Linked DNA regions of Homo sapiens. The protein of the gene in region 7 interacts with the protein of the main gene of each other region in a pairwise test. Each region holds a gene or a part of one and is shown on either strand. Other genes may lie near its edges. The genes, in order: ANKRD46, PTCH1, STX7, TMEM218, TMEM229B, SEC22A and TMPRSS2.

Region 1 (4,732 bases), on a different chromosome or scaffold from region 7:
TTACTTCCAGGGAAAAGAAAAAAGAGAACATATAGTCAAAAAAGTGGATAAATCTAGTTCTAGATTCATTCTTATTTGATATTTACATTTTATGAGACAAGTACTTTTTTTAAAAAAGTCTAAGAAAAAAATGTCAAATAAGCTGCTTCGGTTCACGCAGCTATTTAGCGCTAATAATAGGTTAGAACCCCAATCACATTAAATCCTGCAGTCAATTCCTACCCCATTTTGTCCTGCAGAAACAAAAGCATTTACTGTCTTATTCAGATTTAGGGGCATTATGGCATCAATAAATTAGGGCAGTGTGTAACTGTAATTTAAAGGTCAAGCTCAGTTTTACAGGTGACTTGACATCGTTCCCACTCAAAAAGCAGAGTATCACTAAAACAAACAAAAAGCCCCATGACTTCCTCAAATTGTTCAGTCTAAAAAGGATCCTGGACTCCCGGGAGATTATGAAGCTCACATGGTGCGTTACATGACAGAAGGCACACAAGCGTTAGAGTCAGCGGAACTAGGTTCAAATTCCAGCTCTGTCCCTTATAAGCTGTGACCTTTTCAAATCCTCTATAAACTGTGTGAACTTTGTCCAATCCTTTTTTGTCTTCACTATCTAATCTGTAAAATGAAAACACCTATTGTGAGAGCTCTTCATTCTGAGGACTAAATGAGCTAACAAGTAAACACAGTCTAGCTCATAGATTTTCAACAAATGTTCTTTTCTTCTTCTTCCCTTGTTGTAACACTACATAATTAGTAGCAGAAACTACCTACTATTTTCATAGAAAAAAATATGCTGCTTTAGCAAAAATCTAGAAGTCAGCCCCTCATTCCCTCACTTGCCTAACAGGATTACACTGTCTTCAATGCTTTCTGAACTTATTTCAACTGATTAATGAGGAAACAAAACCAACAGACCCAAGATAAGATTATCAGTTGAGAGATTAATGGGAAGAAATGACTAGACTTCTAAAACAACAGAGAACTTACCAAATATCAATTTTGAGTCCATTGGAAACCAAAAATTGGATAGTATCCACATGGCCACAGAGGTGAAGAGCTGTGTTTCCTTGATAATCTGTGGCCAGAAGATCGGCACCGAATTTATGCAGTAACTGGCAGATGTCTACATTCCCTCGAGCTGCTGCAAGGTGAAGGCCTGTTCTGCCCCTGCTGTCACGAATATTTGGGTCAAAGCCACTTTCCAAAAGCCGCTTGGAATAATTAAAGTCCCCATCAATACAGGCTTGCAGCAAGGGCACGTTAGTCTGAGAAGAATCATTTACAAAAACATACGACATTGTTCTGATGTGGTGGATGGAACACGCCTGTAATGAAATAGGTGAGTGAGATTCCATGAAGACAAATGAAATCAAGACAAAGGAGTCATTTAGAAAAGCAATATTTCTCATCCTTTTTGGCCTCCTGCCTCTAATAAATAAATGACCAAACAGAAACAACAACAAAGTTATCAATTGTATTTTATTTTCCATTAAAACATTTTATTTTCTTCACATCTGCTGGATTAAAATTCCAATTCAATTACTGTAAAGCTCTATTTTGCTTTTCACCATGTAAAAAGATTAAGAGATATTTTTAAAGTTAAGCAAGACATAATAGCTTAGATTTAAGTATTACATTGTCAGAACACATAGATAACATGGTGTTTAAACATCAAAGAACTACCCATATATAAATGCTACTGCTGGTAGACATTCTTATTTAATACAAACTAATTCTCTTTGATATATTTGCTTCTTCTTGTATTTGAGATATTCTACATGGTAACTAAAACTACTTGCATGAAAAGAACTTATACTCAACAAAGACCTGTAGAGTGTTATGTTTATAGCACAATTTTTTTTTTTTGAGATGGTGTCTCGCTCTATTGCCCAGGCTGGAGTGCAGTGGCGCGGTCTTGGCTCACTGCAACCTCCATCTCCCGAGTTCAAGCGATTCTCCTGCCTCAGCCTCCCAAGTAGCTGGAATTACAGGTGTCTGCCACCATGCTCAGCTAATTTTTTGTATTTTTAGTAGAGACGGGGTTTCACCATGTTGGCCAGGCTGGTCTTGAACTCCTGACCTCATGATCCGCCTGCCTTGGCCTTGCAAAAAGTGCTGGGACTACAGGCGTGAGCCACCGCGCCTGGCCTATAGCACAAATTTTAAGAGAAAGGCTAAGGAATGTAACAAACTGAATTTAAAAATCAGAGCATGAAATCAATTCAGATTATGCTTTTTCCACTATTGATCTTATTCTGCTGTGCTCTGTGGTTATCTCAATATGTGACTGTGCCAAATTCCCACCGTCCAAAGACTGAGAGATGAGGGGAAAAAAAAGTAGGGCTGTCTGGGAATACCAAGTCAGGACAAAGCAGCAATCCCAACTAGGTCTGATGTGAATTTCATCTCTTGGACTCATCCAGCTCACCAGTTTGCCCACATCTCTTTCACAGATGTTTCCTGGCCCCACTGGCGCACCTGAACTCAGGTGAGAGTTCAGCATCTGCCTGGTGCACCTGAACTCTCAGGACATTTTGCTCTACCAAACTGCATACAACTAGGTCTCTCTCTCTTCCCCTAGGTTCATTTAAGAAAGAGTTAAAGCCTGTCAAAAGAAACTTCGCTAGGAAATTGACGAGAAAACAAACAAGAAAACAGAAAGGCAGAGACCAATGCTTTTCTAGAGATGGCTTTTTTATTCTTAGGTTACAAAAGCTTAGTCACATATGGACTTGGCTTATACAGCTGATCAGGTAAAGTCTCTTTCTGAAACACTGATGGAACTGGACGCTAGACCCATCTATTCTTGTGCCTAACCTCAAGGGGATTCAGGGAAGCCTGGCTGCTGAGTTTGGTGAGATTGCTGCCCCTATTCCTTTCAACTTGGCTTCTCAGCAGAGCCATTGTCCCAAAATCTGGGGCTGCCTTACACAAGGGCTCTGCTGCTACCATGGGCTCTCTGTGGAAAGAGTGGGCATTAACATACACTGAGACTTGTTCTGAGCCAGGTACCAACTAGGAGCTTTTAATGAATTTAATTTAATCTTCCTAACAACTCCACAGTTAGGCTTTTTTATACCTGAATTTCAGTGAGGAGCCACTGAAGGATTTTTTTTGTTTTAAATTGAGACAGGTTCTTGCTCTGTCACCCAGGCTGGAGTGCGGTGGTACAATCATGGCTCACTGCAGCCTCAAACTCCTGGGTTCAAGCAATCCTCCCACATCAGCCTCCTAAATAGCTGGGACTACTATTTCAATGAGTCCAGCCCACTGAAGAATTTTAAGTCAAAGAAATGGCACAGTCTTATTAGTCTTTCAGAAAGATGACTTGGATGGCAATATGGAGGCACTGGATTGTAGAGACAAAGACTGGAGGCAGGGAGATCAATCATTAGGTCATTGCAGCTATCTAGGCAAGAAATGAAAACCTGACCTAAGGCAGTGGCAGGCAGAAGGGGACGCACTGGAGAGGAACAGAGAAGACAGAATTAGCACAACTTAATGACTCACTGGATATGAAATGAAGGGTGAAAAGGGGCTGTTAAGAATAATTTCAAATACGAAAAAAAGTTTATGATTAAAAACTACAGAGATTAAAATCAAAATAAACTTCAGATTATGATACATATGATGACTTTTTAAAAATCTGGCTGGACACAGTGGCTCACACCTGTAATCCCAGTACTTTGGAAGGCCAAAATGGGAGGATAGCTTGAAGCCCAGGAGTTCGAAACTAGCCTGGGCAACATAGCGAGAGACCCTGTCTCTATAAAATATTTTAAAATTAGCCAGGCATGGTGGCGCGCGCCTTTCGTCCCACCTGTTCGGGACGCTGAGGTGAGAGGATCACTTGAGCCCGGGAGGTCGAGGTTGCGATGAGCTGTGATTGAGCCACAGCACTCCAGCCTGGGCATCAAAGTGAGGCCTGTCTCAAAAAAACAAACCAAACCAAACCAAACCAAACCAACAAACAGAAAAACTCAATGAGAAGAATTTACTCAATAAAATAGTCAAGAATTCTTTTGCGAGGGTAATCTAAATATTTTCCCTTACAGCAAGGGTGTCCAACATTTCGGCTTCCCTGGGTCACAATGGAAGAAGAATTGTCTTGGGCTACACATAAAATACATAATGATAGCTGATAAGCTTTAAAAAATTGCAAAAAAAATCTCAGAATGTTTTTTAAAAGTTTATGAATTTGTGTTGGGCTACATTCAAAGCTGTTCTGGGCTGCAGGTTGGACAAGCTTGCACAGTATTGAATCATAAAAATGGAAAAGCTATCATAAACCTTTTTCAAAATGAAATGCCACATATCAAGTGCTTTTCAAAAGGTAATGTGTTTTGGTTAAATTTTTAAAAATAGATAATTTAAAAAATCTAGTTGGTGTTTTTGATTCAGACACAGTAAGAATTCTTGTGGTTTGCAGACTAGGATACTTCTGAGTGTTGGCTCAGCAAGAAATACAAGTCTCTGTGTCTATTTTTCAGGTGAGAACAAGTGTGTATTTTGTCAGTTTCTCTGTGTCCCTGAGCAACTACTAAACTTAATCCCACATTTAATAAGCCCAATGATAGTTATTTTTCATCTTGATCACAGAACTGAATCTGTCCTAAAGCAGTTCACTGAAGGTTTCACATCTTGTGAGGAAGTCCACAGTAGTAAATACTCACGTAAGCCTTAAGATTAGATCTTTTCGTTCAGTGGTCACTCAGCAGTTTCTCTGAAT
Region 2 (3,633 bases), on a different chromosome or scaffold from region 7:
CAGGTGACACAGCGCAGCCCTTCTTTTTTTCTGATGCATTTTTTAAAAAAGTTCTACGTGATTCCAGGGCAGGGAGAGAAGCTGAAGTTGGGCTAACATTAAAGAACCCTGTTTTAGGACAAGGGCCATGGCTAATCAGTGGCAGTGGGTGCTGCTGAGGGCTGGTGTCGCTGGAGTTCACTCTGAGTGCTGTATTTACTCCAGGGCTGAGACTGCTCGTCTCTTCTCCGTTAACTTCACAATTGACTTGCGGTCCCATCGGCTCCCCACTAATCCAAAACAACTCATTCTTATGGCCCTCCTCCCCCTGTTCATTTGCTGGCCACTTTTAAAAGGTCACATGCAGCTCAGTAGAGGTCACTGCTTGGGAAACAAAGGCCAGCTCCTGTCACATGACCTGACCAAGGGGCCTGCAGCTGTGAACAGATTCTATGCCTTGCTAATGTTTTCCAGACACCTTTGCTAACCAAGTGTTTTTTTAAACACTGTTATGTGCTTTAGTTCTGGAATTCACAACTGGTTACTAAACATGTCTCAGGGCACCCCAATTAGAACTAGTCTTTTAGATATTATCCCAGGATTTTCAATATCAAAGAAGAGGAAAAAAGTTTTCATCCCATCAAGTTCCCAGAATTGCAATGTTTTGAAAATAAAGCGAATGGAAAGAAATGTTTTAAATAATGGTGAAAATGAAGAATTGCATAACCAGCGAGTCTGCACGCCGATTCGAAGGTGGGTTTACCTCCACATATGTCCTCTGCCAGGCCTCCAGGATGGCTGCCGCTTTGTCCTCGTTCCAGTTGATGTGTGAGACATACTCGTACCCCTTGAAGTGCTCGTACATTTGCTTGGGAGTCATTAACTGGAACATGGTCTGCAGGGCATGGGCGCTGCAGCACAGTCCAAGGGAAGGCACATCATCAGTATTCCCAGGAAGCAGTTTCCACTGCCTCAAATCCCCAGCCAGCTCCCCCAACTCACTGGCTGCAATTCTTTTCCTTCTCTGTGAGCACATGTTTCCATTAAAATGGGACCAGGATGGTTATTTTATTTAATAGATTGATGTACCATATTAAAGGTATAACCTTACAAACCTTTTACAGATATACCCCAAAATTAAATTAATAGGCAATTTCCTTTCACAGTTTCCATTCCATGAAACAGGAAGGGGAGAGGAGCAGATAGCTTGAACAGATACACCGGGCTCAGTGACGCATACTTGCTGTGCAGAAATCCCAGACGGTGGCGTTCCCAAGGGAGAAATCTTACACGAAACGCCAGACACCTGACTGACCAGAGTCCACAAGTGCACAAAGGATAATTCTTATTGAGCCGCTGGCTCTCCATCTTTTGCTAACAGTCTATGACACTGTGCAGCTCGCACCACCAACTCTCTCTGACCAGTGTGTCCCGGCCTACTTTACACCTGCTCCCATTCTCTACCTAATGGGCAGATCTCCTTAAACCCTATAGTCAGGAACTATGGTCCTGATGAAAACTACAAATCCATTCTTGAAAAATTCCCCACAAGGTGCTTTTTCAAGCTGTTGCAGTCTGCTACTATTTCTTAATATTCTATGACGCCACCTGGCTAGCGAGGATAACGGTTTAAGTATTAATACAAATACACTTGCCGATGTCAGGAGGGAAGTGGCTTTTGAGGAAAGGAAGAAGACTACAGGGCATAGATTGTCCTCGGGAGCTGGCTTACCTGACGAGTTTTCCAGTGCTGTTCTTGACTGTGCCACCCACAATCAACTCCTCCTGCCAGTGCATATACTTTCTGGATAAGCCATGACATCCACCATTCAAAACAAGGGCCATATCAAGAGGCTAAAATAAAAAGACAGCCACATAATTATGGGAATTAGTAGGCAGGTCACATGCCTTGTTAAAATCCAGTGCATTAAGGGCTTGTGTGTTTCAGAGAGAACATTAATAGCAAGGCTAATGGGAGGTGTATGGCAAATCTTACAGCAAAATTTAGCTCTATAAATAAACTTAGTTCCATAGACAAAGACGATCATGGAGAATGAAATGTTAAAAATGAAAATAATAAAGTGAACGATGAATGGACACAAAAAAGTGTTTTGCTCTCCACCCTTCTGAGAGCGCTCACTGCTGGTACTCACTTTGGTTGAATTTTTGTTGGGGGCTGTGGCGGGGCAGTCTGGATCGGCCGGATTGAGGCAGGGGCGGTCCATGTAACCATGACCAACCTCAGCCTTATTCAGCATTTCCTCCCAGCTGTCCACTTGATAGTTTATTTTCTTTAACTCTTCCAGGAATTCCAAAGGGTCGAAGTTTGTCCACCGCAAAGGAGGTTTACCTCTGCAAAAGAAATTAGGAGACGAGACCATGAAAAGAGCCTTCTAAACGCATCGTAAAGTAACACGGCTGCGCCCACTGCATCCACCTTGTAGGAGGTTCCTGGCAATGCTGCAGTTCTGGGACTCTGGCATCAAAACAAATGCTCCTTTCCAGCATATCTGCATAAAAACTTAGGTCAGGAAAATAATTCATGACTGAAGATGCTAAGCAGAGAGAGGACTCATAAGTTAATGAGGGCACTGAATAATCTTTAATTGCTGATATTGTATATTTAATATCTACATACAAAATTAGCCAAAAAGACAGATCCAAAATTAAATTTTTTTTTTTTTAAAAAAGAGGGCGTCACAATATCAAATTAGCACTTGGCAGCCAAATAAATACTTTGTAAATGTCATCAATCAAAATATTTGATCTCTGCTACCTTTAACAATCCCATACTTATGAGCGCTCTCTGACAGCCTGGCAATGGAATGGGCAAGCCCCCTGCAGCCTCTGCCATCACCACCATCACAGCCACTTCCCCCCACACTCACTTTTGAATCTGTGCTGTTGACAGACCAGAAAGGCTTTTGGCTGCCTGTTATGTGGTTCAAACCACACTGTAGCTGCTTAACCAGGCTGAAGTCATTATTCGGAATCTCCCAACCAGAAAACACAAAACCCCTTATTTCCCATCTAAAACTGTACACTGAAGGTCAGGGGATGGCCACTGCAAATTGCTTTTGCAGATATGTGCAAGCCAGGACAGAAACAATAACCCAAGCTCTCACTCTTGCATAATTAACTGAAAATGTCTATGCTGATTAACAATTATTCTCTAAATGATGCGGTATATATAATATCCAACTGCTAAACGGTGAAACATTCCCTACTGTGGCCTTCACAGATAGTGGATTTCCCCCTTAAATGCCATTAGTGTGATCTAAAGAAAGGTTAGCTTTTTACTTCACAGGAAGATCTCAAACTCAAAATATTTCATTCTGATGTGAACCCACTCACTAATAAAGTCTCTCCTTAAAAAATAAGTGTCTAAATGCCTCGTCTTCGAAACTACGAACATTTTAAAGAGTTAAAAAATCACACGTACTCTGCAATAATTTGCATTTTATTTGCATATAAATAGGTTGGTAAAAGTGAATGAAATTTAATGACGCCTACAGAATTGTTTTTTGAAAAGAGAAAAAACATTCTGCTGAAATCCCCTCTCCCCCGACTATTCACTCAAAAAATGCACATGGAATTTCAATGTTTTTATTTCTTGTTCAAAACTGAAATGGAACAAACAATGATAAGCAACAT
Region 3 (4,732 bases), on a different chromosome or scaffold from region 7:
TGCTTTTTCTCAGGGCCCAGCATTTATTAAGCACTCAGCAAATGCTTACTAAATGAATGAATGACTCTACCCAAGCTTGTGTCTTTGTCTCGAAGCTGTATCTTCCATCACAGTATTAAAATGTTTTTTATGAACATGAGCATCTGGCTGCACATACAGAGCAGCACATTCCACACACTGCCCTAATTGGATCACCAATTGGAGGAAAGTAAGTCACAAGCTGATTGCCTAGAGTGGGTTTTTCCCCATCTCTGAACCAATCTCTGAGGCAAAAAGAATGCTATTAGGCTGACTGATTTATGTAAAGCAGTGCCTATCATTTCTGCAGTTAGGATGGAGTCAATTCCATCCAAAGCCAATAGAAGAGAGACAGTACTCTAAAAGAAGGCCTAGGAGCCATGAATAACTGCCGAGGGTACCATAGACACTGGGTTGGACAAGCAAGAAATAGTGACGATGTGACTTCTATTTTTATGATGGCTCAGCGGAAAATTAGTAAATACAACCAGTGTGTTAGAAATAATTCCGTATCTCCTAAGATACATTGGTTAAAAAGATACTAATAAGTTTTTGTGCGTGTAACATTTGACACCAGGCTTTTAAGTAAAACACCCTAAGATGGAACTTACTGTGTAGTGGAAAGAGTTAGACTCACTAGACATTGATTAGCTGACTGACATAGAGCGTTTCTTATCAGTCAACAAAACTATTTCCAGAGAGGCTTGAAATAAAACAGTTGACTTTATGTAGATTATGGTTAATATCTTTTGCAGATTTTCTAAGAAATCTTTCCCTATCAGAGGTCCCCAAAACATTCCTTTATCATTTTCCTTCTAAATCTTTTATACATGCTTAAGAAATATGCACATGCTCTAAATTGGGGGAACATGATCCTTTATGTATTAATTGAATCAACTTTGGTTACCATGTTGTTCTATTTACTTTTTTGCTGCTCGAGCTAAAAATTGAGTGACTTCAAATACAACATAATAGTTTTTTTTTCCGTTTTGCCCTCTACATTTTTACTTTAATAACTTTGTTTAGAACTGTTATACCTACTTCAGTTGAAATTTTTATTATTTTTGAGAGTCTCCTTATCCTTATTAATGCTTTTCACTTTAATATTTGTAAGGCTAATACTGATACAGCTATCCTAACCAGGTATATTTGCTTGTTTTATTTTCCCTAATTCTACTTTTTGTCTTTCTCTGTCCTTGTACTGTCTTTTGTAAACTGTATATATTGAACAAGGTAGACTTTTTTTTTTATTAATCTGGTGAGATAGGCAATTTATATTTATTGTAACCATTTATTATATACTATGCCATTTCTTTGCTTTTTCTATGCTTTTTCTTCCTTCTTGCATTTTTGTGGTCTATCAAAGTTGGGATTTCTAAAGTGTTTTTCCCTTATTTCAGAATGTTTCCTCTCTACTGGTTTGAAAGTTATATTGTATTGCTATTCTTTAAAGGTTATCTGAAAATTTTCTGTTAAGTACTTAGATTAACAACATCTAAAGTCATTCATTATCTTAACTTCCATCCTAAAGAGTATCAGGATCTTGGAGCACTCACACTAACTTCTAAGTGCTCCCGGACACTTTCCCCACATATACATTTCCTGAGTTATGTAAAATGTTGCTAGTATTTTAATTACGCTCTTTTTTACTCCACAGAGTAAATACTTCTTAATATAGACAGTATTTATTTACATTTCCCATGATTACTGATTTTTTAGCTCACCATACCTTCTTGCATCTCAGACTTTCCTCCTAGTCATTTTGCTGTACTCTAAAATTCATCTTTATTCTTAAGTGAAAGTCCCTTGTTTGTAAATTCTCATTTTGAGAAAAAAGTGTTTTTAATATACCCTTGATTTTGAAAGATAATTTCACTGGGCACTCATTCTATTGAGTTATTCTCTCAGTACCTTAATGATGTTATTCCACTGTCTTTTGCCTTCCAGTTTTGGCACTGAAAAGTCTACTGTTGGCCAGGTGCAGTGGCTCATGCCTCTAATCCCAGCATTTTGGGAGGCCAAGGCAGGTAGATCACCTGAAGTCAGGAGTTCGAGAACAGCCTGGCCAACATGGCAAAATCACGTCTTTACTAAAAATACAAAAAAATTAGCCAGGTTGTGGTGGCGCACACCTGTACTCCCAGCTACTCGGGAGGCTGAGGCAGGAGAATCAATTGAACCCGGGAAATGGAGGTTGCAGTGAGCAGAAATCACACCACTGCACTCCATCATGGGTGACAGAGCAAGACTCTGTCTCAAAAAAAAAAAAAAAAAAAAAAGGTCTGTCAATTCGTTATTCCTTTAAAAGTGGATAAGTTATTCTGGCTGCTTTTAAGATATCTTTGCCTTTATTGTTCTGAAGTTTGAGTATAATGAATATACATTGGCTTCCTTTTCCTGGTTGATATACATTTTGCTTCTTGTATATGTGGATCCACTTTTTTTTTTTTTAGACAGGGTACAGTGGCACCATCATAGCTCACTGCAGCCTTGAACTCCTGGGCTCGTGTGATCCTCCCTCCTCAGCCTCTTGAGTAGCTGGGACCACAGGTGTGTGCCACCATGCCTGGCTAATTTTTGTATTTTTTGTACAGATGGAGTTTCACCATGTTGCTCAGGCTGGTCTTAAACTCTTGGGCTCAAGTGATCCTCCCACTTGAGCCTCCCAAGTAGCTGGGACTACTGGTTCATGTCACCACATCTGGCTAATTCTTAATTTTTTTTGTAGAGATGGAGTGGGGGCTCTTGCTTCATTTCCCAGGTTGATCTCAAACTCCTGGCTTCAAGTGATCCTTCTGCTTTGGCCTCCCAAAATGCTGTGATTACAGGCATAAGCCACCATACCAGGTCCCAGGCTTTTCTTAGCTCTGGAAATTTGTCAGCAATTACCTCAATTTTTTTCTATTTTTTACTTCTTAGACTCCAATCAGCACATATTAAACCTTCCCATTCTATCCTTCAGGTCTCATAATCTCTAATTCTTATTTTCTATCCCTTTACCTGTTTTTGCTGCAATATGTTGTTTCCTCAGTTAAAACTTGATAGTCAACAATTCCTTTAGTTGTGGTGAATCTGCTCTTAAACCATTCATTATGTTATATATTTCAATAATTAAATTTCATACCTAAGTTGTCTTTGGTTCTTTTTAATATCTGCCTTTTAACACATCTCTCATTTCATGTTCGTTTTAATTCATACATTATTTAAACATATAACTGTTATTCTACTTCTGCTAATTGCAATACCTGAATTCCTTGAATATCTAAATCTACTGTTTCTCAATGCAAATGGTGTGTTTCCTTGCATGTTTGATTAATCTAGAAGCATTAATTAGGGAGGCTTTCCTTCGGAGGGGATTTTCATCCACTTCTTAGAGTAACCACCAGAGTCCACTGACTTAGGACTACTTTAATGCTTTAAAGCATTCCTGGTTTTATGAAGGAATCTTAGGTTCACTTTCTTTACTTTGCCTGGAGTCCATGGCTTAAGTCTCAGAGGCACAGTTTTCCTGTTTCTCAACTACTTTAATTTTAGCCCACTCTCATTGGTAATAGCCTTTAGTGATTATCTTTCTTTCTAATGAGCCAGGAAATGAACTAATATTATGTGTGTTGTATTTTATCCAAGAACTAACTGTATTTTAGCAGGAGGATCCTTGAGTATACCTAGTCAACCATATGGCAGGAAGCAGAAATCATCTACTTCGTAGTTGATTTTGGTAATTTGCATTTTTCATATAAATTATTCATTTTCTGTTTTGTGATATATTGGCATAAAGTTGTTTATAGTGTCTTATTATTTTAAAATCTATGTTTGGTTATTTATCTGTACTTTCATTCCTAAATTTTTTATGTCTTCTGTTTTTTTCCAAATCGGTTTCACCAAGTTATGTGTACTTTATTTATTTAAAGAGACCAACTTTTGTTTAAATTGATCCTCTCAAAAAAAAAAAAATTGATACTCTCTTCTATAGTATAGGTTTATACTCCAGGGGTCAACCAACATTTTCGGTAAAGGGCCAGAAATTTTAAAATTGAAAAATGCAGGAATCAATATGAAACACTTAATTGATAGGCTCAATAGCAGAATGGAAGCTACTGCAGAAAGAATGAATAAATCTGAAGATAAAATGATAGAAATTACACAGTCTGAACAACAGAAGAAAACAGGCAGAACAAAGATGAACAGAACCTCAGGGACTTACGGAACTACAATAAATCTAACATTTGTGTCATCAGAGTCTCAAAAGAAAGAAGAAAGAAGGAAGACTGAAAAAGTTCTTGAAAAAAATGACAGCTGAAAACTCCCCAAAATTGGCAAAAGACATAAACATATAGATGGTGAGAAGACCTCAAATATAATAAACCCCCCAAATCTACAAGATACATCATGGTTAAACAACTAAAAACTAAACACAAAGGAAAAAAAGAAAAAGAAAAAAGACAAATGACACCTATCTATAGGGACCAAAACAATTTAAAAAACTGGATTTCTCATGGGGAACCATGAAATTTTCTTTCCTTTTTTTTTTTTTTGACAAGGAGTCTCGTTCTGTTGCTCAGACTGGAGTACAGTGGTGCGATCTCAGCTCACTGTAATCTCCGCCTACGGGTTCAAGTGATTCTCCTGCCTCAGCTTCCCAAATGGCTGGGATTACAGATGTGCACCACCATGCCGGCTAATTTTTGTATTTTTAGTAGAGGCGGGGTTTCGC
Region 4 (4,732 bases), on a different chromosome or scaffold from region 7:
CCCGTGCCTGTTCCCCATCTGTGAAGTGGGGATATTAAGAGTACCTACTTCATAGGGCCGATATGAAGAAGACATAATACTTACAACACACTTAGAAAAATGCCTAGCACATGTTTGCTAAATGTAACAAAAATTGTTATTTTGACATGTGGAACCCTAGACTTATTTCCAAGTATTGGGATGGAACTAGAGATTAAAGGTTGAACTTTATGAACTATAAAATCTCTTCCAATCCTGAGTTCTTATGCTTCTATGAGGATAATCAACACTTTTCTAGATTCGTTTCCATACAGTTCTGATTCTCACATCTGGAAATTCATTTCTATGTAACAGCCAGATACTTAAAGGTTTAAGCAAAGGAATTATGATTGAATGTTTGTTATTCATACTAAAATGATCATTAGAATCCTTTAATGAAACTTTTACCTTTTTGGATATGTGTTAAGAAAATGTCAGGTACAAACAGCTAAGAAACAGTATTAACCAATGTAAAAATAAGGAGTTACTTGAAAGTCAAAAGTGATCTTTCAACTATTTGAGAAATGAGATGTCAGGAATCCTGATGTCAAGTTGGAGCCCCACTTCTAATTAACTGTGAAACTTTTTAAATCCCTTGTCCTCTCTGCCTGTTTCTCATCTGTAAAATAATCACAGCAGGTTTCTTTACACATTGAGCAAAAAATAAACCAGAAACACTTCAACTGCAACAACCATGAAATAGAGTTGATACTAAAGTTTCTGTTAAATAACAGAACAAAAAATGGATTGCTTTATGTTAGAATAAAAACATTTAAAAATAAATTGGATGCCCTCCTTCCAGGAAGCAGTGAGGAAGACAGTCTAGACACCTTACAGCCTAGTTCTTCCATGGGCTTACTCCACCAGGACTAGTGCTTTACACCCTACGGGCACACAATATATGCTGAATGAATGGCAGGATTCGAGAATGAATGGCTATGTACTCCCTAGTCCCTGGACATTGGTATGGTAATTCTGATGCAGTTTTACATTAAATTTACATTGTACACAAAGAATGGTAGCTTTACTTCCATTTTTATCAGTGAAAAATTTAAGGAACTTAACAAATTACCCATTGTGATCTCCATTGTGGGGATAGGGTGGTATCCTCCTAATTCAGCTTTTGTCAGGATACAATTTTAAGACGCCACGAAATAACCTATTTTCTTATATAGAAACCCAGATTTACTCTCCCTCTCCACCTTCTAAACAGTGGGGATCACCAGTCTGCCACAGGATCCCCTCTGGGTAGGGAACAGTAGAGGGAACATGTTCTAAGGCCACTGATCACAGAATGGTTCTGAACACTAAGATGACTTCTGTCTGTATTTAAGGAATGACCTCTGAGCCCTGTCTCCAAGAAGGCCATGAGCATACAGGGTACCATAACAGACATTGACTATAGGGTTATCCCATGCCAAACTCTCAGTGAAATCCATTTTGAGCCCTCTCAGCCTTCTACGTCTTATCCCAACCCTGCGGGGCTTTTTTTGCATAACTGCATTGAGTATGCAGGTAGAAAGAAATCTATCATTCATTTCACCACAGCTGGTAATTATAGACTCCAGGTCTGTAGACTGTAGGTCAAGTCAAGCTGAAATAAACTTTGCACAGGGTATTTTTTTTTTTTTCCTAAAGCCAATCTTTAACATATATGCCTTTCATTTACATCAGGCAAAAAAACAAAAATTAGAAAACAGTAGTATTAAGGATAGAATTTAGTTTCCAACCTTAATACACTTTCCTCCATCTAAATAGTCACCCAAAACCTCATAGTTATTATCCATTGATCTAATAGTTGAATAACTTTTGGGGGGAATAAAAAAGATGGATTCATGGTCAGGAACCTATAAGAGTTTTCCCAGAGTTACTTTTTTAGCAAGGCTCTCAGAAGAAGGTAACAATTGGCAGCTTGTGCTTGTTAGGAGCCAAGCTTCCACTTGGGCTGCAGGGAGACTCACAATAGCATGAGGCCCCCAGCTTGTCTCAATTCCCTCAAGACTTATGCATTCTTTTTTCTCTCCCTCAATCTGCTTAGAGGATGTTTCTTCTTTTCTTACCTGTGTGCCCTAGGCCAGATTAGGAAACTATTTCCTTTGAAGTTTTCTGTACAAAGCCTTATCTGCAAAGTTTTTCCAAACTAAGTAAGATAAAGGAAATGGTTCAATGTAGGGATAACTATACCTGGCCCTCACCAGCCCATGACTCTCAGTGGTTACCTGTTCTCTCTTCTTGGAATTTAGAGCTTAGTTGCCTGTGGGGTGGCAGGACTGGGTAACTTCTCTACCCTGAAAACAGAATTGAGGAGAGAAAGTGAAGGAACAGTGTGGCCTTAACCTACCTGAAGCTCTCAATCAGAGTTCCACAAACCCTAGTGTGTTTTCTCTCTGAGACAAGCCCTGGGGCCTACCACACCTGGGTTTGCACACTGGCTGTTAGGTGAAGGTTGGGCAAGTCAGCTGATCTCTTTAAGCTTCCATTTTTTCTACTTTAAAGTGGGGATGATAAAAATGAGACCGTTGTAAAAATTAAATAAATTAAACCTCAAAGGAATTAGTGTGCTATTGGCATAGAGCACATACTCCATCAGTGATCTCTTTCCAACTTGTTTTCTTGGTTCTTAATTTTAAGCCAGAAGATTCTTTTTCAAATGGCTCTAGGGAGTCAGGATCAGACTTCCAAAGTGGAACCTGACCAGGGCCCCTCCATTTAATGCAAATTTCATTTGGTCTGGGAGATCAGACAGGTATAGAGTTATATCTGATGTTGAGAATATACCTTCCTCACTAGCTTTGGAGAAAGGGCTACAAAGATGAAAAGTGAAGACACCCCAAAATGGACTCATGGTAATTAAATAAGGCACACACAGCCCACCACATCATGGAAGAAAAAAACCTACAGATACATGGCAAGACAAAAAACAAAAAACAATATTTCCATACCTTTCCTCTAATCCCAAGGAAACCTAAAGAACTTGATTAAAAAGCCGTGGCCAAGAGTTCGAAGTGAAAGTCAGCCCTTTAGCTATTATTTATTGCTTTATTAGAGCAGAGGGAAGTGACACTCATTGCCTTCACAGAGCTCTGCAGAAATATATGCACAGAGTGGTCAATGACCAACATCTGAGTAAGTCTTCCAAATTATCACATTAAAATAACCTTTCAAATTTGAGTGCCTCTCCTTTGCAAACAACTGCAACCTCATAATGAATAATTTTATATATTATCAAAAAGAACCAGAAGCCCAGGTGCTTTTTTCCCCAAAATCCACTTACTAAGGACTTGAGTGAAAATCCACTCTAAGCAGATCACTGTTACTATTTCCCTTTCAAAACAGTTGGAAATCCTAAGGTACGGGTACTAAGAAGATAGCAATATCCTTCTTAAGCTGGTAAGAATCTAGCCCCACAGGGACAATTTGGCAATCCTGTTTCTGGAAGCCAGGACTCCAGAGATTTGTCTTAGTGATGGACAGATACTCCTCTAACCTTAAGGCATGAGGGCTGTCAAAACAAGGCTCTGAATAGTGCCTTCCTGCTCATCAATGTCATCACAATGAAGGAGAGAACAGGTTTTCGTTTTCCTGAAGAGTGGTCAGTAGGAGTGCAGTGGTTTGGCATAGATCGGCTCCAGAACATAATGGATTAAAACCAAGAAGAGGCCTCCAAGGAAGATGGCACTAAGGAAAGCCAGCAGGACATAGCGGCCAATGAAAAAGTCATCCACAATCTGGAGAAAGAAAACATCAAAATGAAATTACTACCAGTTAGACACCCTGGCTGGGTTAACCTGAACTCCATGATGAGTGGGCCAAGAGTTAGTTCATGTGTATAACTTCCAGTAACATCCTGCCCTGAGTCTCCTCTGTACATGAGAAAAAAGAATCTTTTCCTCAACTCCCTGAGCAGGAGACACAAGAAGGGATTAATGAGGGACAGGGAACAAATGGCTCAATTTAGGATGTTGGTAAACACTTTGAAGTCCCTGGATGAATTCTTTTATATTCTGAAATCTGTTACCTGAAAGAGTTAATGAGAAGCTTTTGCATGGTCCTAGAAAGGCTCATTTTTGTTGTTGCTAAAATACATTTTATTACGGAGAATTTTAAACATACATAAAAATGCAATAGTATAATAAACTCCCATGTATCTAAGACCCAACCCCCAAAATCATCAATCCATTGCCATTTCAGGAGGGTTCATTTTCAAAATGAAAGGTGACTCTTTAAAGCTATCAGCGGAAGAGTCCCATGCCACGGGGCAGGGAAAATGACCATTTACCTGAGATACTAAAACACTAAAAGGATAGGTAACTTGCCCCAAAGCAGACAGTGGGCTGCCTGGCCTTACACTTGAGGCCCCAAAGATGTTGGTCTTTGCTGACAAAACCCTATAATTGGTGTTGGCTCTACCCACTTGTCCACTGACCCCTTCCAGAGCTCCACTCTCCCCAGATCCAAATGGTGGTGCTTAAATTTGGGCAGGAAAAAGCAATTTAATCTATAGACCTAATGGAGCAACACCACCAACCAAGTGGCTGACTGACTTCACAGAAACTTTGAAATCCCAGTACCTAGGAGAATCCAAAACAGCTGAAAGGCAATTGTGGCAGACAGAATAATGGCCCAAAGATATCCACATCCTAATCCCCAGAAATTGTGAATATGTTAGATTATATGTTAAAGGAGAATTAAGATTGCCAATCAGCTGCCCTTA
Region 5 (4,732 bases), on a different chromosome or scaffold from region 7:
ATCTCCAGAACTTTTTCATTGTCCCAAACAGAAACTTTGTATCCATTAAATACAAACTCCCATTCCCCATACCCTCAGCCCCTGGCAACCACTATTCTATTTTCTGTCTCTATGAATTTGACTACTCTGGGTGCCTCATATAAGTGGAATCATACAAACACTGTCCTTTTGTGACTGGCTTAGCATAACTGGCTTAGCTTTCACTTAGCCTAATGTCTTTAAGGTTCATCCATGTTGCAGCACATGTCAGAATTTCCTTCTTTTTTTTTTTTTTTTTTTGTGACGGAGTCTCGCTCTGTCGTCCAGGCTGGAGTGCAGTGGCGCAATCTTGGCTCACTGCAACCTCCGCCTCCTGGGTTCAAGCGATTCTCCTGTCTCAGACTCCTGAGTAGCTGGGACTACAGGCACACACCATCATGCCCGGCTAATTTTTGAATTTTAGTAGAGACGAGGTTTCACCATGTTGCCCAAGCTGGTCACAAGCCCCTGAGCTCAGGTGATCCGCCCGCCTTGGCCTCCCAAAGTGCTAGGATTACAGGCGTGAGCCACTGTGCCCAGCCAGAATTTCCTTCCTTTTAAAGGCGGAATCATATTCCATTGTATATATCACCATATTTTGTTTATCCATTCATCCATTGATGGACACCTGGGTTGCTTCTACCTTTTGGCTACTCAAAATAAGGCTGCTATGAACACGGGTGTACAAAGGTCTGTCTGAGTCCCTGCTCTCAACTCTTTCAAGTACATATGCAGAAGTGGAAATACTGGATCATATGGTAATTCTATGGTTAACTTTCTGAGGAACCACTGTGCTGTTTTCCACAGTGGCCACACCATTTTACATTCCCCATCAGCAATGTACAAGGGTTCCAATTTCTCCACATCCACCCCAAACACTTGTTATTTTCTGTTTTGTTTTTATAATGGCCATCCTAATGGGTGTGAGGTGGTTCTCTCATTGTGGTCACATTTGTCTTTGCTCCATTAAATGGGGTTTTGGTGTTTGGTTTCAGTGCTGAGGGGAAACCAATGGATTGACACAGGAAAGAGTCCTCCCCAGTCCTTCTGGCTCCTTTCCCCTCCCCTCTTTTAAACCCCACCAGTCTTCAACGCCCGGCTCCCATGCTGCTTCTCTCTACTTTCTCCTCACCCTCCACCAGCGACTGTCTGCACCACTTACCTGGCCCATTATCAGGTGCCACCCCAATGGCTTTTTGAGGTATGTGCTCTCATGATCCAACTAGCATGTGAACTCCTTGAGGATAGTGACTGTTGCACAGGCCAGTGCTTTGTGGCCTTGACGCAGGCCCGTCCTGGGCAGGCCCTCTCTAAATGACATGTCCTGTTCATGTGGAGGGAGGTGTGGGACTGCATCAAGAATGGGAAGGTAGGGCTTGAGAACATAAATCCCAGCTCTGCCAGCTGCTAATGGCTTCACATCTCTGTCGATCCCCTCTCCAAGGTGGGAGAAAAGACAGAGGTTAAGGAAATGGCATCTGTAGTATGCACACCTGTCTGGGAATTCCAGCCTCACATTTCAGCTGAAGCAGGCCTGGTCACATTAATACCTACCCAGCCTTGTGCATTGCTCTGTGGTCTTCCAAGCACTTCGTTCGCATTTTGTCATGGTTCTTACATAATTAAAATTCAGGCTGGGCGCAGTGGCTCACACCTGTAATCCCAGAACTGTGAGAGGCTGAGGCGGGTGGATCACCTGAGGTCAGGAGTTTGAGAACAACCTGGCCGACATGGTGAAACCCTGTCTCTACTAAAAATACAAAAATTAGCTGGGTGTGGTGGCATGCACCTGTAGTCTCAGCTACTTGGGAGGCTGAGGCAGAAAAATTGCTTGAACCCAGGAGGCGGAGGTTGCAGTGAGCCAAGATCATGCCACTGCACTCCAGCCTGGGCAACAGAGCAAGACTTCCTCTCCAAAAAATATATTTATAAATAAAATAAAAAAGATTCATGTGAAGGTCAGAAAATTTTACTCCCATTTTTTTGCAGTGAGACAGAGCTCAGAGAGGGGACATTATTTACCCCATATCCCAGGGCCAGTAAATGGAAGAGCTGAGATTAGAACCAATATCTCTTGCTTTCTACTGCAGAACTCATCCCCTGCACATGACTGCCCATCTCTTAGACATACGTACCAAATGTCTCTCCCCTGCTCAAAAATGCTCGATAGTGGCTGGGCACAGTGGCTCACGCCTGTAATCCCAGCACTTTGGGAGGCGGAGATGGGCAGATCACCTGAGGTCAGGAGTTCAAGACCAGCCTGACCAAAATGATGAAACCCTGTCTCTACTAAAAATACAAAAAAACAATGGATGGGTAGGTATTAATGTGACCAGGCCTGCTTCAGCTGAAATGTGGTGGCATGCGCCTATAATCCCAGCTACTTAGGAGGCTGAGACAGGAGAACCGCTTGAACCTGGGAGGTGGAGGTTGCAGTGAGTCGCGATCGCACCATTGCACTCCAGCCTGGACAACAAGAGCGAAACTCCATCTCAAAAAAAAAAAAAAAATGTTCGATATCTCCTTATTTCCTAATGAAACACAACAGCATCCTTGGCCTGCCATTCAAGATTCTTCATGACCTTGCCCCGATTGACATCTTCAGCCTTTTCCTCACAATCCAGCTCTTCCTGTCTTTCATCTCCATGCCTTTGCAGGTCCTATTCATTCTGTTAGGCGTGCCTTTCTCCTCTCACTTCCATGAGTATAAACCAGCTTGCAGGTTACCTTCAGAACAAAATCTCTTTCATTCCCCCAGGTCCCAAGGCTTCTCTTCCTCTTCTGAATTTCTACAGCACTTACTCTGTCTCACTCCCTTTGCTACAGGTTATTTTCAATATTATATTGAGAATTTCTGTCCCCGGCCAGACCTCTTTCCTGTGTGCTACACCTATAGCTCCTGCCCTTCCCTAGACAGCTCCCCCTAATGTCCCACAGGCATCCCAAACTCCTTTCCTAAATCAAACCCATGGGCAGGTGTGGTGGCTTATGCCTGTAATCCTAGCACTTTGGGAGGCAGAGGCAGAAGGATCGCTCGAGCCCAGAACTCTTGAATTCAAGACTAGCCTAGACAATGCAGTGAGACTCTGTCTCTAAAAAATAAATAAATAAAATCAAACCCATTATCTTTTCCCCAAAACCTGTTTCTCTCCTAAGACCCCCACCCCAATTAATGGCACCACCATGCACCCAGTTAGAACCAGCGGTCTCAAAGTCTGTCTGGCTTCCTCTGCCACATCCCCACCCTAACATGAGTTCCTGAGAGTGAGGGCCTTGCCTGCCTGGTTCAGCATAGTATTCCCAGTGCCTGGCACAAAGCCCAGCACATAGTAAGCATTCAAGAGAAGAATAAAGACATTTCTTAGTTAGCAATCGCCATATAACAAATCATCTCAAAAACCCTGGCCTAAAACAACTACCGTCTACTATTACAGCTCACATGTCTGTGGTTGGCAGACGGCTGGGGCAGCGTAGCTCCACTCCACCTGTCTCTCATCCTCCTCCGGGGCCCAGTGGACTTGCCTGGGCATATTCTTCTCATGGCAAGGGCAGAGGCACAAAGCTGAGCAAGGCTAGCTGTACAAGTGTGGTTCAAGACCCTGGCTAAGCCATGCCCACCATCATCCCACTGGCCAAGGGAAAGCCACCAAGTCAGCTACTAACTCCCACCCTTACCACCTCTTAAATATCTTTGGGATCCATCCCCTCCTCTTCATTACTCTTCTCATTGCTGCCACTGCTCTGGTTCACGCCCTCATCATGTCTCACCTGGATGACTCCAAAGGTCTCCCAGCTTTGCCTTCTTCCTTCTAATTCACTCATCACAGGATGAAAGAGTGTGTAGAAAAAACGCAACCTTTCTAAAATGCAAATCCGATGTTTCTCACCACTTGAAGCCCATGAGTGGATCTTCAACATCTACAGAGTAAATAAAGCTCAAACCCCTGGGGACGGCTGGCAAAGCCCTTCACAACTCGTCCCTGCCTCCAATCCTGTCCTCCAGATCTCTACCTTGCTGTTTTTGCTACCTGGGCCCCACCCAGGGCCGGTGAACCCTCCTTTAAGACCCAGCTCCTCCTCTGTGAGGACTTTCCTAAGCACCCTGACTCCAGAGTTGTCTTCCCACTTCTGCACCCTCCCTTCTCTGTGGTAATAGTGAGCACTCTGCTTCACTGGATTCATCTGAACGCCAGCACCAGCAGCCTCCTGAGGAATGCTTGTTTAAGATAGTGGTAAGAGAAAAAAGCAGGATTCAAAACTGAATATTCAACCTAACTCCGATTCTGCAAAGGCATGCATATGTGCACATATACAAAAAAATTAAACAACAATCATCTCTGGATGGTGATATCATATGTGCTTTTTTTCTTTATATTTTTCTGCATACTTTTTTTTCCTAACAAGCATGTATAACTTTTATAAAACTAAAATTTCATCTTAAAAATGCTTATGGAGGCTGGACGTGGTGGCTCACCCTGTAAACCCAGCACTTTGGGAGGCTGAGGTGGGTGGATCATGAGGTCAGGAGTTCAAGACCAGCCTGGCCAACATGGTGAAACCCTGTCTCTACTAAAAGTACAAAAATTAGCTGGGCGTGGTGGCGTGTGCCTGTAATCCCAGCTACTCGGGAGGCTGAGGCAGAAGAATTGCTTGAACCGGGACCCAGGAGGTGGAGGTAGCAGTGAGCGAGATCGTACCACTGCACTCCAGCCTG
Region 6 (4,732 bases), on a different chromosome or scaffold from region 7:
CCACTGTTTTTTATTTTATTATTATTTAAGTTTTAGGGTACATGTGCACAATGTGCAGGTTAGTTACGTATATATACATGTGCTATGCTGGTGTGCTGCACCCATTAACTCGTCATTTAGCATTAGGTATATCTCCTAATGCTATCCCTCCCCCCTCCACCCACCCCACAACAGTCCCCAGAGTGTGATGTTCCCCTTCCTGTGTCCATGTGTCCATGTGTTCTCATTCTAACTGGTGTGAGATGGTATCTCATTGTGGTTTTGATTTGCATTTCTCTGATGGCCAGTGATGGTGAGCATTTTTTCATGTGTTTTTTGGCTGCATAAATGTCTTCTTTTGAGAAGTGTATGTTCATATCCTTCGCCCACTTTTTGATGGGGTTGTTTGTTTTTTTCTTGTAAATTTGGTTGAGTTCATTGTAGATTCTGGATATTAGCCCTTTGTCAGATGAGTAGGTTGCGAAAATTTTCTCCCATTTTGTAGGTTGCCTGTTCACTCTGATGGTAGTGTCTTTTGCTGTGCAGAAGCTCTTTAGTTTAATTAGATCCCATTTGTCAATTTTGGCTTTTGCTGCCATTGCATGCAAGAACTTTTATTGTGGTTTTGGTGGTAAGGAATGGGTGAGGCAGGGTAAGGAGGTTTTAAGATTGGCTAGTTTGAATAATTTCAATGGACTCTGGGGCATAGGTTCTATCTCTGGTTGTCTGACATGTGGCCCTGGGATGATTGGGATAGGGAAATAATGGCCCTGGCTGTGAGAGCCTTGTAGAGGAGTTGGTTGGTAGTGTGAGTCTGGATTGATTGGAATGCGTATGAAAGGTGGACTCAGACAAGTTGTTTGCCATCACTAGGAATTAGCTATCCCTGGGAGAGGCAGTTCTTCCATGGTCAGCAAGGCCCAAGAGGTCAAAGCATCAAAAATACAGAATAAAAAGACATGATTACTAAACACCCTTATCACAATATAGGACATTTCCATCTCCCCCGAAAAGTTTCTTTGTGTCCCTTTTCAGTCAATTTCCACCATCCTCTAGACAACGACTGTTTTTATTTTTTTCCACTTGAACTTTGTTTTGTTCCAGAACTTTATATAAAAGAAGACTACATTGTGTGACTATTGTGTTCAGCTTCTTTTGCACAGCATGATGTCATACATACATGTTGCCTGTCTCAGTAATTTGTTCCTTTTTATTCCTGAGCGGTATTCCATTGTATGAATGTACCACAATTTGTTTATTTATTCTCTTGCTGATGGACGTAAACTTGTTTCAGTTTTTGTTATTGCACATAAAGCTACGATGAACATTCATCCTTTTGTTGACATATATTTTCATTTCCCTTGAGTAAATATTAGGAGTGGAATTGATAGGTCAAAAGGTTGCCTGTTTAAGAAACTGCCAGTTTTCTGAAGTAGTTGTAAGATTTTACTTTCCCAACAAGCAATTTGTGAGCATTTTGATTACTCAACATCTTCACCGACATTTAGTGTTGTTAGTCTTTTTACTTTTATGTTGTGCTTTAAAAAAAAAACTTCACAAAACCCTAAATTTAGGGTTTAAACTGATAGAAACACTTCTGTCAGTTTCTTTGACACTTGTATATTTTTCATCTATTTTATCATTTTCTAGAAAATTTGTCAGTTGCCTGAAAATGCTGCTCTGTTTTGGCTGGTGCCCACAAGCCAAATAGATTTACTAATCTCTCTTTCTTACACACACACACACACACACACACACACACACACACACACATCCCCTTCATAATCCAACAGGTATTTATCATTTTTTTTCTCTAAAGTATTATGCTAAATTTTGTGGAGGCATTTTTTAGAAATACAGTAAACACATTAACTGTACTCAGAATGAGAAAGGGAAATACAATCCAATAAGTAAAACACAAAGTAGAATGTGATACATGCTCCAAAAGAGGTAAGAAGGAAGACTCAGGTCTTGGAGCCTTGAAGGATATGCATGATTTTTACAGGTGGTGATGATAAAGAAGGGCCTCACTGATGAAAAGAATAGTGTGTTTTTGTGCCAGACTGTTAGTCTCATTCAGTCACACTTCAGTAATAAATTAGGCTCATTTAGATGGAACTGACTTGAAATTTCTCTCTTATCTTCCACAGTCTGTTTCCCTAGGCATTGTGGGCATCTTTGAGATTTCGAATGGTACCATCTCTTTGAATCGTCATAAGGACTATTCTGGGACTTTGCTTCATCAATTATTTTTCCTTTTTCTTGATTCTTCTATTTCATCTTCACTGAATTATTTCATTCCACCTATGTATGTATTCAAGTCTTCCTCCCTCCCTCCAACACTGTAAGAGAAAAAAGAATTATTTTCTCAATCCTATTATCTCTGTTAAGCTTTCATCCTGTTTTTCTCTCCTTTAACTTCAGTAGTATTCACTTAATGCTTCCACCTCTTAACATCGCCAGTTGTTCAACCTCTTGCAATCTGAATTTGATAAGGAAAATGTGGTTCATATACACAATGGAGTACTGTTCATCCATGAAAAAGATGAGATCCAGTCATTCGCAACAGCATGGAGGGAACTGGAGATCATTAAGTAAAATAAGCCAGGCACAGAAAGACAAACATTGCATGTTCTCACTTATTTGTGAGATCTAAAAAGCCCTCAACCACTTTTCTGGAAAAAAAAAAAAAAATTTTAAGGAGAATCCTAGCATCTCCTGTTCAATAAGTCTAATACTTTTTACTTTAAGGTCAGATTTTTTTTGGCCTATCTATAGGCACTGTTAGCCATATCTTTCTTCTTGATGGTCTCTCCTTCCTAGGTTTCACTTGATTCTCCTGCATCTGCCTTCCCTGACTCTTCTTCCATCCCTTACTGACAGTGTTTACCAAGGATTTCCCTTGGCCTGCTTCTTTCTTTGACGCTCATTTAAACCTTTCCCTTCAGTTGCAGACCTCGTCTGCTTCTCCCAGCTATTCCATTCTTCAGTTGCTTGTTAAACACGGCCCACCATCACCTCAAATATGATGTTAAAATGTCCCCATTTTTTATCAAACTTAAGTTTCTTCCTGTGGATCTGTTGCTCAGTACTCTCATCTTTCCGATCACCTAGAGGTAAAACCTCAACATTTCTTTGAATTTTTTTCCCCCTTTTGTTTGCCACATCTAATTAGTTGCCAAGTCTAATAATTTTAACCTCCATGACATCTTACTTCTTTTTCCCCATTTCTTTTTTTTTTTTAATTTTAGCTTTATTCTTTAATGAACTCCCAAGCACTCAGATTCCCATTTCTACTGTGACTATTCTGATTCAGGCCCTGATTTCAGTCAGTCTTTTGCAGTGACTCTCCCACAAACTTCCTAATGTAGAACTGTAGAAAGAGCATGGGCTCTGCAGTCAGATAGACCTAAGTGCTAATTGTGAAGATGGCCCTTCTGGCTGTCTGACTTATAGAAAATAATTTAATCTTAATTGACAGATGAGAAAGTTTAGGCACAGAAAAGTTAGTCATTCCAGTTCAGTCACAGAGAAGTTAGTCATTTCTACCTCATGAAGTATGCCATTCTGAAGGGTAAATGAGACAATGGGTGCTTAGTGAGAAGGTACTCAGAAAAATATTATTTCTCCCTCCCTTACTTTTGATCTCTTTACAACCCATTAATAGATTAATCTTCTTTAAGTATAACCTTCATCATATGAGAATCTTGTTCTTCAGTGGTTCCCCATTGTCTAATTTTCCATAATTCTTAGCCTAGAATTGTATACTATCAATTTGTGTCCACCTCCCTTTCTGACCTTATTTCTCCCCACTTGTCACAAACATCGCTTTGAGCCAAACCAAACCACTAGCAATGCCCTATAGCAGAATGGCTGAGAACATGAATTCCAGAATCATCTAAATCCCAGTTCACGTACTTACTTTGTGCCCATGAGCAAATTATTTAATGTCCCTAAACCTTTCCTATTCTGGGAGGGGTGGGGAGGGGGCGGGGTGGGGCAGAAAACCAGGATAATTATAGTGCCTACTGCATTGGGTTGTTGGAAGGATACAGTGAGACCAAGTATATAAAGCACTTGGTGCCTGGCGTGTTGAGAGCAGTCACTGTTGGTAGAAGTAGTAGTTGTTGATGCTGTTGTTACTCGTTTCTCCCATTTCCATCTCCATCACATTCACATTCTTTTCTCTGCGTGGAATGCATTTCTTCCCCTTTGTACCTGACTACATTTTATCTATCTTCAAAGCTCTTTCCTGGTTCTAGACCACCCTCCCCCTACTTTATCTTTCCACTTCATCATTCCTTGCCTCTTTTAGCTTAGAATGCTTATTACTTTCATATACTTATCTGTTTTATCTCTTTTATAAAAGACTAGAAGTGCCTTGAGGGCAGAATATGTAATTCAATTTTTGTATCTTCGAAAGCATAGCATCTTACACAGAACCATGCCAGAAAGTATTTACTGAATAAATATATTAATTTACTGTAACCAATAGCTCTTTGGTTCCTTTGGTTCTAAGGGGTTTATTCTTACTTCTTTAGGAACTTTTGCAGAGTCTCCATAAACCATTGGTACATTTTCAGAAACATTTAATTTTGTTATCAACATGCCATCCTTGGGTTCAAGAAGACTAAAGAAAAGACTTTATAGGAGAAGGCAATAATAACAAAAGCAAAACAAAAACTGACCAGATGACACTGCTTTGGATTCAGCAAAATTATTGTTTTTCTACACTGCCTCTTATTTGTTATTG
Region 7 (4,409 bases):
TTTGCTGCAGGGTGGGGCCCTTATGGAGAACCTCTGCTAGGGCAGTGCAGAAGGGAAATGTGGGGTTGGAGCCCCTACACAGTCCCTACTGGGGCACTGCCTAGTGGAGCTGTGAGAAGAGGGCCACCATTCTCCAGACCCCAGAATGGTAGATCCACCAACAGCTTGCACCATGTGCCTGGAAAAGCTGCAGACCCTCAACACCAGCCCATGATGCAGCCAGGAAGGAAGCTATACCTTGCGAAGTCACAGAGGTGGAGCTGCCCCAGACCATGGGAACCCACCTCTTGCATCAGTGTGACCTGGATATGACAGATGGAGTCAAAGGAGGTCATTTTGGTGCTTTAAGATTTGACTGCCCTGCTGGATTTTGGACTTTTAAGGGGCCTGCAGCCCCTTTATTTTGGCCAATTTCTCCCATTTGGAATGGCTGTATTCACCCAATGCCTGTACCCCCGTTGTATCTAGGAAGTAATTAACTTGCTCTTGATTTCACAGGCTCATAGGTGGAAGCAACTTGCCTTGTGTTGGATGAGACTTTGGACTGTAGACTTTTGACTTAATGCTGAAATGAGTTAAGATTTTGGGGGACTGTTGGGAAGACCTGATTGGTTTTGAAATGTAAAGATACGAGATTTGGGGGGTGCAGGGGCAGAATGATATGGTTTGGCTCTGTGTCCCCACCCAAATCTCATCTTGTAGCTCCCATAATTCCCATGTGTTGTGGGAGGGACCTGATAGGAGATAATTGAATCATGGGGGTGGGTCTTTCCTGTGCTGTTTTTGTGATAGTGAATGGGTCTCACAAGATCTGATGGTTTAAAAAATGGGAGTTTCTGTGCACAAACTCTCTCCCTGCCTGCTGCCATCCATGTAAGATGTGATTTGCTCTTCCTTGCTTTCTGCCATGATTGTGAGGCCTCCCCAGCCATGTGGAATTGTAAATCCAATAAACTTCTTTCTTTTGTAAATTGCAGTCTTGGGTATGTCTTTATTAGGAGCATGGAAACAGACTAATAGAATAATAAGAAGGAGTCATTTGAGGGACCTCTCCAACAGGACAGGCTGCAGGAACTGAGGGCACCAACCACAGGAGCACCAAGTCTGGCCTTGCCTCACCTTTGGTCCTCTGACCAGCAGCCTCAACATCACCCCCTTATAAGGAAATGGAGGCTGGTCCTACTCACCAGGCAGAACTTCAAAGATGCAGTAGTTACTTTGAAAAAAAAATTGCATAATTTATTTGCATGATATTCATTTTCACAATTGAACTTTACAGTTTAAAAAAGATACAAAAAAAGACAAACAGTTGTTCACATAAATAAGAAGGGGCAATAAAGAAGGAAGACGTTTTCACCATTACAACACCTTTTAGGATGTGTCTTGGGGAGCAAGCACCTTACAGTGCCAACTGTTTCCAAGGTCCCTGGGAATGCTGCTCTCTACAGAGGCATGTGCACAGACAGATCCTGCAAATGGGATTGCATGACTTTCCATTTCAAGGTTAAGTCCTAGCTGTAGAATCATTCATTTCATTCTTGCAAACCAGCCTGCTTGGCCAGGAGGCAGAACCATGGTAGAGTAGTGCTCATGGTTATGGCACTTGGCAATGCAAAAGGGACCCTTCCCCTGGTTGGAAACCCACAGCATTGGAAGGGACCACAGAGAGTCCAAAACAAAACACATCTTTCTCTTCTTCGCCGCCACCATGGGCACTTTGCTTCAGCACATTCATTTATAGAACGTTAAGTCAGGAGCCAGTCATTTTGTCAAAGCAGCTGAAATAGGCCACCACTCTTACTTGGCAAAGATGATACAGTTTCAAAGAGTTAAATGAAGGTGGACTACTTGGAGACATCAAAAGCTAAGTTTCCAGGAGCACTGAGGTAGCAATGTGTAGAAACATAACATGGAAACAGTGTACCTTAAACTGAGCATCCTTGATTTCCCCCATGGACCTCAATTTCCAGTGACTAGCAGGCCTGAAGAGGCCAACATGGTGCCAGACTTGGCGCCCTGCCAGGACCAAGGGGCATGTGCACTCTCCAGGGTGCTAGGAGCAGGGTCAGGGAGGATGAGGAGGAAGGCTGAGTCTCCCTCCCAGGAGCCCCACCCAATGTGCAGGTGGAGACCTGCACCAGGAGTGCTCAGGGCAAGTTCCTTTTCAATTGCTTCCCTCGCACCAAGGGCACTGTCTATATTCTCACCCCATAAGAACAAAAATGTTTCTGTTCCCCTTACAAGTGACTACCACGTCACCACCCATGAAGGGCTGGTCCCTTTATTTCTGGCCACCATCCAGGGCTGCTAAGGCTCTAAGAACCCATCAGCAAAATCCCCTTGTGGAGAGGTAGGCTGGGGACACTACCAAGTGGCCCCAGAGGGCAGCCGCTGCAGGTGCCACCTGGCTGTCTCCCTTTCCATGTCTCTCCTTTTTCATCTCAAGTCATCCAGCAGCTGAGAGGTGACAGCTCCATGCTCATCCAAAATTGGCCCCTGGAAAGGACTCAGCAGGAAGATCTCAATGGGGCAGCCTCCACCCCTCTCCTCCACACTTGACCGCCAGTGCCCACAACCAGCCGGCCATCACCCCTTGCGGACAAGGGGTTAGGGAGAGCAGGCTGGGCAGGGGAGCCACTGCAGCCTGCACAGAATGGCAGAGAGTGCCAAAGCCAGACAAGTTCACTGTTTAATAAAAATGAAGTGACCTCTGAATCATCTCTAAGAGTAAATCATGCACGGGGAAGCAAAACCAGCCCCATTGTTTTCTTGTAAAACGACGTCAAGGACGAAGACCATGTGGATTAGCCGTCTGCCTGTTCAAATAGGAAAAAAAAAAGTGTGTTATTTTCTTAAGACAAACAAAGGTGGAAAATAATTTTTTCCTCTAGGTTCGCATGAAGCACTTAGAAACCAAATAAGCAAGCTTAATAGCACAAAGGGATCATTCTTCTCTCCAACGTGTTGGTCAGAGTCAGGCTGAGCATGGCGGGGCAGGAGCTCCGGAAGGAGCGGGCAGCGGATGTGGAGGCCGGCACAACAGGCATCTCTTCAGCAGAGTCTGGGCCTCCCCCGGCTGCTCTCCTGCCACGCAGCCCTTCCCTCCCTGCACAGCCATGCGGACCCACCTGCAGCCGCCAAACACACCTGGATCATTTCCTAGCTCCATCCTGGTGCGAGTCCGCCCCTCAGCCTGGCTGACCATCCCAGCCCTGCCAGCTTCCCTCCTGCCCTGCCTCCTCCTCCTGGGGTCATCTGTTTCTAGCACTGGGCCCTGGGCCAGGTGACGCCCCCTGGGCCCCATGGTCATGGGAAGGCCCTGAGTCCCGCGTGTCATTTGAAGGAGACACAGGTCGGGCCTCAGCGGGAAAGGCCCCCTGGTTCTGCTCCTCCTTCAACAGACTGGGCATCTGGGAGATTTGGGAGAAGACAGAATAGACTGCTTTCTTCCACTAGTAGCCCAGCCCCAGAAAGCACAGAAATCTGAGAAAACTATACGTCTGAGGTCCTGGAGATGAGAAGATCTGGTTCTCACCCCCTATCTGGACAATGCCCAAAGCCAGGGCTCTGCTAAGCAGAGACATCCATGAGGCTCACATGGAACCCCTGAGACCTTCCCTCGTGCTTGAGTCTGGGGCATCAGAGAACCCTGGCTGCTCCTGCCCTTCCTAACCTTGGGGGCTGCCCAGGAGCCACTCGATGGCCCCAGAAAAGGATGGGCACAGCCGGCTCTTCCCTCTGCTCTCTATAAATCAAAAGTTTCATGTGAGGCCGGGCACCGTGGTTCACACTTGTAATCCCAGCACTGTGGGAGGCTGAGGTGGGTGAATCACCTGAGGTCAGGGCTTCGAGACCAGCCTGGCCAACATGGAGAAACCCCATCTCTACTAAAAATACAAAAAGTAGCTGGGCGTGGTGGCGCATGCCTGTAGTCCCAGCTACTTGGGAGGCTGAGGCAGGAGAATCACTTGAACCCAGGAGGCAAAGGTTGCAGTGAGTCGAGATTGTGCCACTGCACTCCAGCCTGGGCGACACAGTGAGACTCCATCTCAAAAAAAAAAAAAAAAAGTTTGATGTGAGGTGGCCTGGGTGGAACAGCTGAGTCAGCTGAGCCAGAACGAAGTGTGGTTGGCAGAGCACCAAGGAATTTCACACAAGCTGAGCCCCAGCGCTTTTCATCCAAACACCAGGGGAAATATGCAAGTGAAGCCAGTGAGAGGCAATGGGCAATGGGTGGACACTGGGGGGATGGGGCTGTGGCTGGAGGAAGCAGAGTTTGCTTCATGCTGACCAGTGGTCACCAGTCAGCTTCCAGCAGCAGAACCACGCCTAACAGATGTCTGGCTTTGGCTCGAGGAATCGGAGAACACAGTCAGAAGGAGGACAGGATAGTTACCCTCATTTGTCGA

The links.
Region 1: the proteins of TMPRSS2 (region 7) and ANKRD46 interact in binary tests that used the Homo sapiens proteins (3 or more experiments, as listed by UniProt).
Region 2: the proteins of TMPRSS2 (region 7) and PTCH1 interact in binary tests that used the Homo sapiens proteins (3 or more experiments, as listed by UniProt).
Region 3: the proteins of TMPRSS2 (region 7) and STX7 interact in binary tests that used the Homo sapiens proteins (3 or more experiments, as listed by UniProt).
Region 4: the proteins of TMPRSS2 (region 7) and TMEM218 interact in binary tests that used the Homo sapiens proteins (3 or more experiments, as listed by UniProt).
Region 5: the proteins of TMPRSS2 (region 7) and TMEM229B interact in binary tests that used the Homo sapiens proteins (3 or more experiments, as listed by UniProt).
Region 6: the proteins of TMPRSS2 (region 7) and SEC22A interact in binary tests that used the Homo sapiens proteins (3 or more experiments, as listed by UniProt).

Annotation. Positions count from the first base shown.
Region 1 is NC_000008.11:100,528,533-100,533,264, forward strand, and holds part of ANKRD46 (ankyrin repeat domain-containing protein 46), read right to left. Parts: 5' UTR 4,677-4,732; intron 3,929-4,676; exon of another isoform or gene 3,824-3,928; intron 1,329-3,823; 5' UTR 1,302-1,328; coding exon 991-1,301; intron 1-990.
Region 2 is NC_000009.12:95,478,258-95,481,890, forward strand, and holds part of PTCH1 (protein patched homolog 1), read right to left. Parts: exon of another isoform or gene 3,570-3,633; intron 2,332-3,569; coding exon 2,133-2,331; intron 1,834-2,132; coding exon 1,712-1,833; intron 891-1,711; coding exon 743-890; intron 1-742.
Region 3 is NC_000006.12:132,446,563-132,451,294, forward strand, and holds part of STX7 (syntaxin-7), read right to left. Parts: 3' UTR 1-4,732. UniProt on the Homo sapiens protein: May be involved in protein trafficking from the plasma membrane to the early endosome (EE) as well as in homotypic fusion of endocytic organelles. Mediates the endocytic trafficking from early endosomes to late endosomes and lysosomes.
Region 4 is NC_000011.10:125,093,995-125,098,726, forward strand, and holds the end of TMEM218 (transmembrane protein 218), read right to left. Parts: intron 3,747-4,732; coding exon 3,612-3,746; 3' UTR 395-3,611; downstream 1-394. UniProt on the Homo sapiens protein: May be involved in ciliary biogenesis or function.
Region 5 is NC_000014.9:67,474,655-67,479,386, forward strand, and holds part of TMEM229B (transmembrane protein 229B), read right to left. Parts: intron 1-4,732.
Region 6 is NC_000003.12:123,239,292-123,244,023, forward strand, and holds part of SEC22A (vesicle-trafficking protein SEC22a), read left to right. Parts: intron 1-4,732. UniProt on the Homo sapiens protein: May be involved in vesicle transport between the ER and the Golgi complex.
Region 7 is NC_000021.9:41,463,338-41,467,746, forward strand, and holds the end of TMPRSS2 (transmembrane protease serine 2), read right to left. Parts: coding exon 4,397-4,409; intron 2,817-4,396; coding exon 2,805-2,816; coding exon of another isoform or gene 2,783-2,804; 3' UTR 968-2,782; downstream 1-967. UniProt on the Homo sapiens protein: Plasma membrane-anchored serine protease that cleaves at arginine residues. Participates in proteolytic cascades of relevance for the normal physiologic function of the prostate.